Linked DNA regions of Homo sapiens. The protein of the gene in region 1 interacts with the protein of each later gene in a biochemical or structural test. Each region holds a gene or a part of one and is shown in the gene's direction. Other genes may lie near its edges.

Region 1 (7,282 bases):
TCAGCTTAGAAAGAAAGGGTCCACGTGAAGTTTGTCTTAGACTCTTGGGCATCTGAAACTGAGCCATGCAGAGCTCTGCAAGGCCAGTAGGGGATACGTATGGTTCACGCTAATGGATACAAAGACTTTGTGATTTTCTGTTTCCAGCTGAGCAATGTAAATAAACATCAGGGTTGTAATGGAATGTTGGGGTAATCAGCATACTTTTCATTGAGTACAGAGGTATGTAGGTACAGCAGGACATTCTGACTTCTGTGTCAAAGGAGCCAGTGGAACTCTGGCTGGCTTTATCCTTGGAAGCTCAGAAATATACAGTTGAGATAATTTATGGTAGAATTCAGAGATTTTCAGGGGACAGTCGTGTGTTGGATTTTTTTGGCGTGTATTTTTCTTTTTGGAAAGGAGTTAAAAGAAGGACACTTGAAAGCACAGGCAAGTTTTCACATCTCTATTTGGAGATAATTTATTAGTACACGTTGAAGAGAACCTAATACTAAACATGTCTTAATATTTTTATTTTTGAGTAGCTGTTAACTGACAATACAAGGCTCTTTTTAACAGTCTTCCTCAAATAACCTTTAATTCACTTGGACATTTTCAATTCCATTTTTAAGTTAAAAAAATTTTAAATCACAGCCTTATTAAGATGTAATGCACATATGAAATTCGCTCTTTTTAAAGTGTACAATTTTTTTTTTTTGAGATGTAGTTTTTCTCTTGTTGCCTAGGCTGGAGTGCAATGGCACGATCTTGGTTCACTGCAAGCGCCACTTCCCAGGTTCAAGTGATTCTCCTGCCTCAGCCTCCTGAGTAGCTGGGATTACAGGTGTGCACCACCATACCTGGCTAATCTTTTGTATTTTTAGTAGAGATGGGTTTTCACCATGTTAGCCAGGCTGGTCTCGAACTCCTGACCTCAGGTGATCTGCCTGCCCCGGCCTAAAGTGTACAATTTAATAGGTTTTTTTTGTATATTCATACAGATGTGCAACCATCACCATTATCTAATTTTAGATCACTTTCATCACTCCAAAAAAAACCAACCTACGTATTAGTAGTCATTCCCCGTTATTGCTTCCCCGTCCCACCCCTGGCCTCTGGCAACTGCTTTCTGCTTCTATGGATTTGCCTATTCTGGACATTTCATATAGATGGAATCATACAATATGTGGCCTTTATGTCTAACTTCTTTCACTCAGCATCATGTTTTGAAAGTTGTTCCATGTTGCAGCGTGCGTTGGTACTACTTCATTCCTTTCTCAAAAACCCACACCACTGAAAGCCTCTTGGTACACTGTGTTAGTTCATTCTCTTGATGCTGTGAAGAAATACCCAAGACTGGGTAGTTTATAAAGAAAAGAGGTGTATAGCCTCTTTTCTTCCACAGGGCTGGGGAGGCCTCAGGAAACTTACAATCATGGCAGAAGGGGGAGCAAACATGTCCTTCACAAGGCGCCAGGAAGAAGTGCAGAGCGAAGTGGGGAAAAGCCCCTTATGAAACCATCAGGTCCTGTGAGAACGAACTCACTATCACAAGAACAGCATAGGGGTACCGCCCCCATGATCTCATTGTCTCCCATAAGGTCACTTCCCCAACACATTGGGATGATAATTCGGATTACAACCTAAATGATGAGATTTGGGTGGGGATGCAGAACCAGACCATATCATACATCTTGCCAAATTACTTTTCAGATGAATTTTATACTTCCGTTATGAATAAGAACTCCAGTTTTTTGATATACCTAATGTTAAATGACGAGTTAATGGGTGCAGCACACCAACATGACACGTGTATACATGTGTAACAAACCTGCACATTGTGCATATGTACCCTAAAACTTAAAGTATAATTAAAAAAGAATTCCAGTTTCTCACCCTTGCAGGTGTTTGCATTAAAATTTTATACTGACAATAATATTGCCAAGTGTTCTGCTCTGTGCCTGGTTTCCTCATCTGTAAATTGGGATATCTGCCTGTATTGTTTAAAAACAAAAAATGGCAAAACAGAGCTATAAAGAACAGAAGTGTTACGTAAAATGTTGCTTCTGTAGTGTCCTGTTCATAGTGTGAAGTGCCCATATGTGGAATTTTGTTTTTTGGCAGATTTTGTTCCCCTTAAGACTTTGTTAATTACCGATAATGTTTATTTCCTCAGTTTGTAGAAGACTATGAACCTACCAAAGCTGACAGTTATAGAAAGAAAGTGGTTCTTGATGGGGAAGAAGTTCAGATAGATATTCTGGACACCGCTGGGCAAGAGGACTACGCAGCCATTCGAGATAACTACTTTCGGAGTGGGGAAGGGTTTCTTCTTGTGTTCTCAATCACAGAACATGAATCCTTTACAGCAACTGCCGAATTCAGGTATGTCTGAAATGAAATAGCAGAAGCCCCCAGGAAGCTTTTTGCCTTTTCTCATATGTCTTAGGCCTATGAAGAATTTGGGGCTGAGCATACTAGGAGAGGGCTGAGCTTGTTCTCAGGAATAATTCTGTCTAAAGAATCTTCTGGGGCTTTCTGAATCTTGGCACATTATAGACTATGATGATTATAATCTCTTTGGGCTTTCCTGATCTGTGATTTCTGAATAAAATAATTTTAAGAGTCTTACTGTCCCCGAAAACAATGAAGCTATTCCATATAATCAAGAACATATAATTTTGTTCCTATAAATACTCAGAGATTTTCATTGATAAATTAACCATCTATCCTTTAAATAATGTTACTAAAAAAAGTAGCAGGTTTAGTCTGTGTTGAAGGTTATGAAACAATGACTGGAAAGTGAAAGATGGGAGTCAAAATGACCATTTGCTGCTACTTAAGGACTTTCAGCACAGTGGAGGGACGAGAACGCGGCTTTAGAGTCAGGAGACCTGGTTTGAATCCCTGCCTTGCCGCTCACTGACCATGGGCAAGTTTACTTAGTGTCAGGATTTTGTTTCTTTCTCTGGAAATGCACTTGTGAGTTGAGAAATGAAATGAAAGGATGTATTAGACTGTGAATTTCATGTGGGCAAGAACCTGGCTACCCTCCATTGTCCCCTGTCACAGTGTAGACACATGGTGCTTCCATAGTGAGTAGAATATCCATTGTTATTTATTTTAAAATATGGCAACTATTCTCCATGAAGGTGTTAGAGAAGAAAGAAAAAGAAAATATAGCAGTGAAAAAAATACCTTCAGTTCATTTTGTTATAAAGAAATAGCCTTTTGGGCATAATTCTTATGCTCTATAAATGTCTCTTTACCCCATGCCCTTCCCTTTCTCCTACATAATTGAGTTTTAAAAAATCTGTTCTTCTTATAAACATATCTATCTAGATGACTTTTTAAGAAGCAGATCTAGAGTTTAGTAGGGAACTGAAGAGAAAAAACCCAAAAATCAAATCAGTTTTTTTCATTCTTCAGCAAGTTCTGGTCTGACAGTAAGGTGGTCAACCAGAGGTGAAAAGGAGAAAGCTAGCTATCCTTCCAGGACTTGGATGGAAGCATCACTGAGCCAGGGAGGCCTCGGGTGAGCACAGGTCACCCAGCAGGGCTAGTGAAAGATAATAGGGAGGTGCCTCAGTGATGCTTCATAGCTCCAGGCTTCAGAGTCGAAGACCTACTTTTCTGGAAGCAGAGTGCGTGTGGTGCAGTGACTAGTTAAGTGACTATGACTCATTATGAGAAGTTCTGTTAATTTTTAGACATTTCAGACCTTCCTAAGGGCTGCTCTGTTTGAATGTAGCCCATGTATTTATAATTGTTTGCATCTGCGTAGTCCTGTTTTTAATGCCTCATAGAGGGTAAAACAGGACAGATGCACACACTCTCTTCTTTTCTTCCCTGTCCCGAGCCTTTTGATTTCCTGTTGTTCTGTGACTTACTTAGAAGGGAAGTGGGCAGGAGAGTTCTCTGCAGAGGATATGGAGAAATACAGGTATTTCAAGTGCTCCTTGTCCTCTCCTCAGTCACCACACATGCACAGATAGCACTCGGGCGTTCTCACAGAGTTGGAGCAGGGCTCCCCTCAATGTGGAAAAGGGTTTTGGTTGTTAGGTGGAAAGAGAGATCCTTAGAAGAAAAAGGACAGATGAATACCTAAAACCAGAAAGAAGGGGAAGTTGACCTCTGCGTAGGTTTCTCATGTTGTTGGGAACAGAAGAATGCAGGTCAATTATCTGAGCCCTGTGGCTAAACTCAAGTCACTTTACTTCATGTCTGTTAGCAGTTTTAAAACAGCATTTGTGTACTATCTTCCAAATAGAAAGGCCCCAATATAAAATGACATGTGAATATGCTGTCTTCCTTGAAACTTTTTCTGGAAAATATTTTATGAACTAAGATAAGTTCTGTCATAAGAGACCAGAACTTGGTACTCCCATTTTTGGATCGATATGTTTATCAATGAGGTAATTTTGTGTGCCCCTGCAAGACTAATGAGCCAGAAAGCTATCAGTTTTTATTGTTCATAGTTTATAATGATCACATGACTTCAAATGTATCATGTTCTTTGACCCCAGTTCAAATGTAGGCTATAACAAGGCTACACAAAGCCAATTTCAAGCATCTTTTCATCTTTTTTAGTTTGTCTTAAAATATTTGATGTCTGGCACTTAAATTGACTACATGAAAATTTTAGTTTTTTTTTTTGTTTTTTTTTTTGTAGATACAAGGTCTCCCTATGTTGCCCAGGCTGGTCTTGAACTCCTGGGCTCAAGTGTTCCTCCCTCCTCAGGCTCCCAGAGTGCTGGCATTACAGATGTGAGCCACCACGCCTAGAAAATATTTTTATTATTGTGAAATGTTACCCTATACCATATAAAAATCAATACAGATCTCTACAAAATACATTTTTGAAGGGGACTCTTTTTAGAATGTATTGGCATATAAAAGTAGAAATATTCTCATGGGACCAAAATAATGGAAATGGGGTATTTAATTTTTTTAAATATTTAGTTTTGATTAGTACTTTCAGATAGCTGATAATTTTTAGTAGACGTAAAATTTAATATGCTACGAGTAATGGTATTTTTGTAGAAGACACTTTTGAAGTACTTTTCCATAGGGCTTGTCGTATTTCCTTTCATTTTTTTCACTTTGTAGTAGAAAAATGGTACGTATTGGAATGTGATTACTGCCTAACATATCTGTCTCGATTCTGTGGCCTATAACATTACTGTGTCTGCATGGAAACTGGGGATGGGATGACATACTTGTCGTGTACACATGCAGATCTAATCAAAACTGAAGTTTCAAAACAATACAATATTCACCTTTCCTACTTGAGATTCCCTTGGATATTTCTGATCTGGTCAGTTCTGTTCTATAATCTATTTCACTGCAGGGGGGAGAAACTGCTGGTTGCGACCCACTAGATTGGTTTTGTGATCCACTAATAGGCTGCCACCTTCCATATAGAAAACACTGGATTTCATAGCTTTTATGTCACAAACAAATATTTTCAGGGGAATTAAGCATTTTATGGAGATAGTTCCCTTAGCTTGTTTTTATTGCAGAGATTGACCATTTTTCTTCTTTTTGTTTTTTTTTTTGTGTGTGCATAAGTTGGGGACCCTGTTGTGACGTAAAATCCTGGGCTCCTATCCAGACACTTCTGTAAGACTGAGCCCAGAAATCTGCATTTGTGATGAGCATCCCAGGGGATTCTGATGTGGGCAAACTGAGAAGCAGACTTGGAAAACACTTGTCTTGCTCATGACTGCCTCTAGGGAGTGCTTTCTCAGAACATGCCCTAAATCTAGTGATTTTTTTTTTTCCTTCTGCCTTAGGAAAGCCTTTTATTTTAGATGGGTTCACAAAACCAGGGTTCGTTCTTTAGTTTTTTTAGCTGCTGTATTTTTGGTGTAACACCTTAGGGAACAGATTCTCCGTGTGAAGGCTGAAGAAGATAAAATTCCACTGCTCGTCGTGGGAAACAAGTCTGACCTAGAGGAGCGGAGGCAGGTGCCTGTGGAGGAGGCCAGGAGTAAAGCCGAAGAGTGGGGCGTGCAGTACGTGGAGACGTCAGCGAAGACCCGGGCCAACGTGGACAAGGTAGGCGTGAATTCTGTGTATTTCTCAGAAACAGACCTGAGAAACAGCAGAATGGAGGCATCTCATCTGCTGGGTTTTAGGGAACCATTTATGAAAACTAGGTGAAGATTCTGATTCCTATGAATGTCTAAGCCATTATCATGATTATAATGAGAAACATTGAGAGGATGTCACCTTGTATTTCAGACAACTCACAGAACCTTTTACTTTGTCATGAGGCTTCATTAGAGTATGCTTAATGTGTTCTTTTGGGTTTTTCTTTTTTGAGACAAAGTCTCACTGTGACACCAGGCTGGAGTGGTGTGATCTCAGTTCACTGCAACCTCTGCCTCCTGGGCTCAAGCAATCCTCCTACCTCAGCCTCCCAAGTAGCTGGGACTACAGGTGTGCACCACCACACTGGCTGTTTTTTGTGGAGATGGGGTTTCACCATGTTGCCCAGGGTGGTCTCAAATTCCTGGGCTCAAGTGATCTGCCTGCCTCAGCCTCCCAAAGTGCTGGGATTACAGGTGTGAGCCACCACACCCGGCGGACTATGCTTACTGTTGGTGTGGTCCTGGGAAGGATGGTGGGACGAGGCCATTGGTTTGTGAAGGCTGGGCTGGAGGGATGGACGTCATTAGCTTCTGTGTGTGCTCTCACCTTCCACAGCCTTGCTCTTCAGGAGCAGGGTGGGCGGGCCTGGCTGCTTCTAGGAGGTTCCCCTGGAGGTGCCCTTGAAAGATACGTGGAGCTTCTTGATTTTGCTCTCATTGAGTTATTGGTCAGATTTGTTCTTTTCACCTTACTGTTCACTGACAGAGCCACAGTGTTCCATCTTTGTAGTGTAGTCTCTAAATAGTATTTGCTCTCAGAACTCAAATCTCTGGGATCTCTTTTTTTTTTTTATCTCTTATCCCATCCCAGCATACTTTCTCATTCAAATCTCTGAAGCTAATAAAAGGGTGACCTTGAGTGACAATGATGAATGCTGACAATTTGAAAATCCACCTATCAGGGATTGCTATTGTTAGGCCTTTTTTCTTTTTAAAATTAAAGTTCAAGGTGGTTGCCACACAGCTAAAATTTTAACGCTGTGCCTTAAAGATGAGGCTTTCTGCCTTGACCTCATTCACTAGCTCTCACTGCATATCCATGTGCTTGTAGAATCTAAGCACATAGCACTTTGGCAGCCACACAGTGGACACGTCTGCTTTTTGTTCTGCAGCATCAGCATCTGAATCCCCTATATCCTGTCTTC
Region 2 (5,938 bases), on another chromosome or scaffold:
ACCTCCTGCCTCGGGGACCACAGCATGAGGGCCCGGGACAGGGCCAGGGTGGTGGAGCACTGGATCAAGGTGGCCAGGGTAAGCTATGGTTGGGCCTGGGGATTCCCTCTTTAAAAATGGGGAACTTCCTCTTCTCCTCCATCGGCTTTCAGGATCGGCATCTGTATCTCTGGCCTGGACCCTGCACATCCCCTAGGCTCTTCTTGCCAGAGCTTCACTCACCTTGACTCCCACGGCCCAGTGGTGGCTGCTCACTTCCGACCTGGGGTCTTCCTTGGGTTGAACTAAAATCCTCCTAGATGAGTGACATCCACTCGGCCCCAGGTCTGCCCTCCTGAGGCTCCCCAGGCCTCTGCTTCATCCAGGAGGGGAGATCTCAGCAGAGGGGGCTGAGGCTGTAGTGGGCCAAGCTCCAACTCTGAACCGCACAGCTCATTCTTCCCTCTCCAGGAGTGCCTAAGCCTCAACAACTTCTCCTCGGTGCACGTCATCGTCTCTGCTCTGTGCAGCAACCCAATAGGTCAGCTACACAAGACGTGGGCAGGAGTGTCCAGGTGAGGAGGGCTCTCTCCATGGCAGCATCAGGGTTGACCTAGGGACTCACAGGTCTCCCCCCATGTGCCCTCAATGACTCTGAAAGGTTCTTGGAGTCCAGGGACACTGGAGGCAGGGATGGGCCGGTGGCTGTGGTCACTAAGCTGCCCTGGACTCCTAGGCAAGGATTTCCAACTCAGGACTAAGGTTTTTTAACCATCAGGAACAGACTGGAGCCAACTGGAGGCTTTCAGGTGTTTGTACCCAGCAGTGGAACTCTGTGTCCAGCTGAAAGCTAACTGTAAACACGCAGTGGCTCATGTGAAGTGGAGATGGGGCCCAGGGGAGGAGCATGAGAGGTCCCACCCTGGTCCTCTGGAGCCCCTGTGATCAGAGGACTCCACTGAAAACTCTCACCCAGTAAGCTGGGATTCACTGGGTTTTCAAACAAAAGGGACTGGAACTCACAAATCTCCCCTGATTCCCAAATTTACCCTTCTTTCTTTCCTCTGCCCATAGCAAAAGCATGAAAGAGCTAAAAGAACTCTGCAAAAAAGACACTGCAGTGAAGAGGGACCTACTGATCAAGGTACAGTGGAGTCTGGGAGATGCAGGACAAGTGTTTAAGGGTCAGAGAAAAGAGTGAGTTTGGAAGGGCATTGGACCAGGTGTCGAGTGGTTATTTTGTTTGGTTTTGACTTACCTACTAAAAGTGGACTTGAAAAATTCCCTCCATGCCTACCTTGGGCCAACAGGAAGAGTGGTGTGTCGGTCCATGGGCACGTGGGGGCATGGGGGCAGGAGGCCCTGGAAATGGGATGTGGCAATGGCTGCTGGGCTGCTGGGCTGCTGAGCAGGGGTGATGAGCTGCAGCATTAGCAGGGCTCTGGCTCCCATGCTGGTCCATGCTGCTGGCATGGAGCTTCCTCCAGGCTGGAGGGTGATCATGGTAGGTGGGACTTCCTTCCTTCCTCAAACCGGCCAGCAATTCCTCAGGAAGCCAGGCCTCTGCTGCTGCTGCTGCTGCTGCTGCTGCTGCTGCTGCTGTCTGCAGCACACCTCCATGGGCAGGGGGCCTTGGCCTGCACTGGGGGAGAGGGGGAACAACAACAGAGGAAGCTCATGTGGCAGGGAGTCCAGTAACTGCCCAGCTTTGGGTACCAATGGGCATACTGGGGACAGACGTAGCTGTTTGCTGGGACTCCCCACTCTGCCCTTTGCAGACACCCAAAAACGGTCATGTCAGAGGATTCTCACCGGTTAGCAGCGACGCATGCTCATGACAAGTATCTGGGGGATTCATACATTGCTAGGGGATCCTCCCTGACCAGATCTCAGAATCGTCCATGCAAATGAGAAGGCAACATGTCACCCCACCCAGGACTCTGGAAAACCCTGCCATTGCAGTCAGAGATGGCGCATCAGGAGGCTACTTCCTCAGTGGAGAAAGAGAGAGTTCCGTGCACGGAACTCCCCTGGGGGATCATTGGCGAGGCGAAGCCTTTGGCATGGCTCAAACCCAGTTTGCGTGGCAGAGATTCCAGTGGGGCTGGGATAGGCAGGTGCCACTTAACCAGGTCTCCTAAAATGCCCTGTCCCTTTCCCATCACGACTGTATGTGGCTGGAGACCTAGACACTCAAAGACTCCAGAGAACACGACCCTGATGGGTGGTGGTGCTGGGATGTGAGCTGAAGGCAGCCGAGACGGAGCCTCCAGGAGCAGAAGGAGGCGTCCTCTCTTTGGGGGCCCTGGGGAGCCACTGCCCGCTCTGGGCCTCTGTTTCCTCATCTGGAAAATGAAGGGATGCTGAGCCTGTAGTGCAGGCCTCACAGGGTAGAAATGAAGTTCAAGAAAAGAAAGCAATTTGAGGGTGCTCGTGCCTGGTTCTTCCTCAGAGGGATGACGGTGAGAACAACGGCAACAGCTACAGGAAACTGAGCCCTCAGAGGCCCTGTGAGGTAGCTGTGGTTTGCATCACTCTTTACAGAAGAGGAAACAGTCTCAGGGAGGCCCGGCTGCAAGACTGGGTGACACACACAGGGAGTGTGGATCTGGGCCAGTGGTATGAGCACGGTGCCAGGTGGCTCCCGCCACTCCCTGGGGATCCAAGTGCGGGGTGGCTGGGGTGTAACTGGGGGAGAGGAGGAGAGCCTCACTGTCCCTGTCGCTGACACCTGGCAGGCGGGGAGCTTTAAGGTGGCCACCCAGGAGAGGAACCCCCAGAGAGTCCAGATGAGGCTGCGGAGGCAGAAGAAGGTGAGTGAGCCTGTGGCATGGACGGGCCGCAGGGGATCAGAGGACAGGGCTCCCTTCCCCGCCAGCTGGAGGCCTCCATATCAAGACAGCGGGGGCTTCCTCCCCAGCCCTGTCCTCCTGTGGCCACTGGGCCTGGAAAACCTTCATTTGAGAGACCAGAGGAAGGGTCTGGGAAAGCTGGACTCAGACTAGATGTGGGGAAGGGTAAAGCTGGGACCACAGGCCTTTGTGACTTGTTAAAATCCCACCATAGAGGTTAACAAGGAGTGCTTGCTAGACTTGGAGGTCAGCTGGGATACAGGAGGCAGAGAATTGGGAAAGGCAGCTGAGGGTCTTTGGCTGCTCCAACCGGGAGACCTGAGGAGGGGGCTCTGGGAGACAGGGGCTGATGGGATTTCATGGGACAGGACCTTGGGCAGGCACCTGAGGGCCAATACTCATCACCACTACCCCTCCCACCTCCCCACCCCTCCTTGGCACAGGGTGTGGTCCCCTTCCTGGGGGATTTTCTGACTGAGTTACAGAGGCTGGATTCGGCCATCCCGGACGACCTGGATGTGAGTGAGCCTGGGGCAGGGTGCTTGGGAACCAAGATCCTGAAGCTTGGGAGGAGAGGGTCCTGGACCGAGCCTTTAGATCTCAGCCCTTGGCAAACCTCCTCTCCTAAGAGCCTCACAGCTGCTCCTGTGGGTGGGGGTGTCAGGCCCATCTCATCACCTCTGAGTGATGGAGGCTCCATGGCAGCCACCAGGCCCTATTCCTGAGTGGTGAAGCTGCAGAGCTGCCTGACTGCAAAGCTGCTGAGGTGTGGGCTGAACTGGGCTCAGCTTCTCCCTAGGGTAGTCCCGTAATAGGAGGGTGAAATTGAGCCTCTCCAAGGGCAGGCAGTTCCAAGGTCACTGAGCGCTTTCTTTCTATGAGAGACCTCAGTTTCCCTGTCTGTCATCACAGAGGGTTGGGGCAGAAGGTCCCTGGGCCTCAGCTCCCATTCCCCCTGCTCTAGAGCCCGGAGCCTGAGGCAGGTCCAAGTCCTGTCGTGTGCACATCCCCTGACCCTGGTGGCCCTGGCAGTAGTGCAGCATGGGAAGGGGTGGGGTGGGGCTGGTTGTGGGCCAGGGGCCTTTCTGATGGACTCTGTCTGCCTTCCAGGGCAACACCAACAAGAGGAGCAAGGTGAGCAGCTGGGGCACTCACGTTGGATGAGGGTGGGGATGTGGACGTCACAGTCCACCCTGGGCAGGACACTCCCTGGCTCCATCCTCTACATCTTAGGCTTACTGGGAGTGTTTGACACACACAGGAGGAGGGGACCTATCCCAGGAGAAAATGGGAAAAGCACTGGAATCAAAGACCAATTCCTGCAGGAGGGGCTGTTTATATCCAACTCTGAGAACAGGCTGGGGGCGCTGCATGGGACCCCTTCAGAAAACTGCCCCAGGGACCAGCCCCTTCTCCCTGCCTGCCAAAGGCCCCCACAGCAACTTCCACCCAGGCCCTGTCAGCATCCTGTCCTCTGTCTCTAGGAGGTCCGAGTTCTGCAGGAAATGCAGCTGCTCCAAGTGGCTGCCATGAATTACAGGCTTCGGCCTCTTGAGAAATTTGTCACCTATTTCACAAGAATGGAGCAGCTCAGTGACAAAGAGAGGTGAGGGCCTAGCCCATGGGCTGAGGGTGGGAGAAGGCTCTCCATTTTTTTTTTTTAACATGGTCTGGCTCTGTCGCCCAGGCTGCACTGCAGTGTCACCATCTCTGTTCACTGCAACGTCTGCCTTCTGGGCTCAAGTCCTTCCTCAGCCTCCCAAGCAGCTGGGACTACCGCTGTACACCACCATGTCCGGTTGTTCTGCTGTTGTTGTTCTGGTACAGATGGGGTTTCACGATGATGTCCAGGATCGTCTCAAACTCCTGGCCTCAAGCAATCCACCCACCTCAGCCTCCCAAAGTACTGACGTTACAGGTGTGAGCCACCCCACCTGGCCTAGAGGAGGCTCTCCCGTGGCCAGCTGCAGAGAGCCTATGGCCATGCCTCCACGGCCAGCATCAAGCCCTGTTGCATGGGGACCACTGGGGACCCAGGATTCCAGCTGGGCAGGCACTGACAGGGGACCTGATGTGTGGCTCATGGTGGCCTCACAGCTGCTTCTCTGTCCTGCAGCTACAAGCTGTCCTGCCAGCTGGAGCCCGAAAACCCGTAGGCTGGCAACATCCTGCAGTGGCTGGGAACCCACCGGGATGCTGGCCAGAACACCGGCTCTGCACCATCCCTCACCCAGACCGTAGACACCAGGGAACCACATCTAGGAGGCTGGCAGCTCAGCTGCATCTTGCCCTGGATCCTCATCACCAACTGCTCCTGCTGGCCAGGATCAGGCCATGGGACTTTTGTGAGTCAGGCGGGAGACCATTTTATGTTTATTTTCTTTAGTGTATAAGTAAGGGTTTTTTCTTAACTTTCGTTAAAATAAAATTTTAAAAAACTATTCAAAATGTTCTGTAGTTGTTGGAATGAGAAAAGTAACTCCAGTGCGGTAACCATATACCAGTCTTTAGGATTCATAGCCTAGCATGTCAAATTGAGGCTATGGCTGAACAAGTTATGGAATAGCATTCACATTACACATGCCAAGCATTTAATGTTTTCCTTCTTTATTCAAATTATTGTTAACTCTGCTTAAGAAAACAAACAGAACAAAACAAAACCCCTTAAAAGCCATAGTATGTCACCCAATCTATGTCACCCATAGTATGTCACATTTGTTCTACTGACCAGCTATTCTCAAACTTAAATTCTAGTTAAATTCAAGTTCCACTGGGTTACTCAATTTTCTTAAGGTTTAAATATTTAACAAATCACTTAAATATTTACTGAAGGGCTGGAGATGGGAGGTATTTAAGCAAGTGGTAGGGCTGGCCTTCTCCAGAAGTCCTGGGCAGAAGGGAGCTGGCCATCAGTCTCCACGAAATACAGATAAACTTTTTCCACTGTGGATCTTCCCAGACCTTCTGACACCTCTCCCCTAAATGAACATCAAGGAAGGTGAGAACTGTTTGAACTCAGTATCTAAAAGATGTCCCACAGCTTAATTTGAACACAACCCCCATTGTGGGATATCAGACAAAAACATGCCAAAGAAATCAACATTTCA

What was found.
Region 2: the proteins of RALB (region 1) and RGL4 form a complex in vitro, tested with the Homo sapiens proteins (one study listed by BioGRID).

What each region holds. Positions count from the first base shown.
Region 1 is NC_000002.12:120,283,716-120,290,997, forward strand, and holds part of RALB (ras-related protein Ral-B), read left to right. Parts: intron 1-2,158; coding exon 2,159-2,367; intron 2,368-5,864; coding exon 5,865-6,042; intron 6,043-7,282. UniProt on the Homo sapiens protein: Multifunctional GTPase involved in a variety of cellular processes including gene expression, cell migration, cell proliferation, oncogenic transformation and membrane trafficking.
Region 2 is NC_000022.11:23,693,897-23,699,834, forward strand, and holds the end of RGL4 (ral-GDS-related protein), read left to right. Parts: coding exon 1-78; intron 79-222; exon of another isoform or gene 223-450; coding exon 451-554; exon of another isoform or gene 555-1,053; coding exon 1,054-1,123; exon of another isoform or gene 1,124-1,621; intron 1,622-2,519; exon of another isoform or gene 2,520-2,598; intron 2,599-2,717; coding exon 2,718-2,792; intron 2,793-3,274; coding exon 3,275-3,349; intron 3,350-3,941; coding exon 3,942-3,965; intron 3,966-4,315; coding exon 4,316-4,437; intron 4,438-4,658; coding exon of another isoform or gene 4,659-4,749; intron 4,750-4,947; coding exon 4,948-4,987; coding exon of another isoform or gene 4,988-5,217; 3' UTR 5,218-5,272; downstream 5,273-5,938.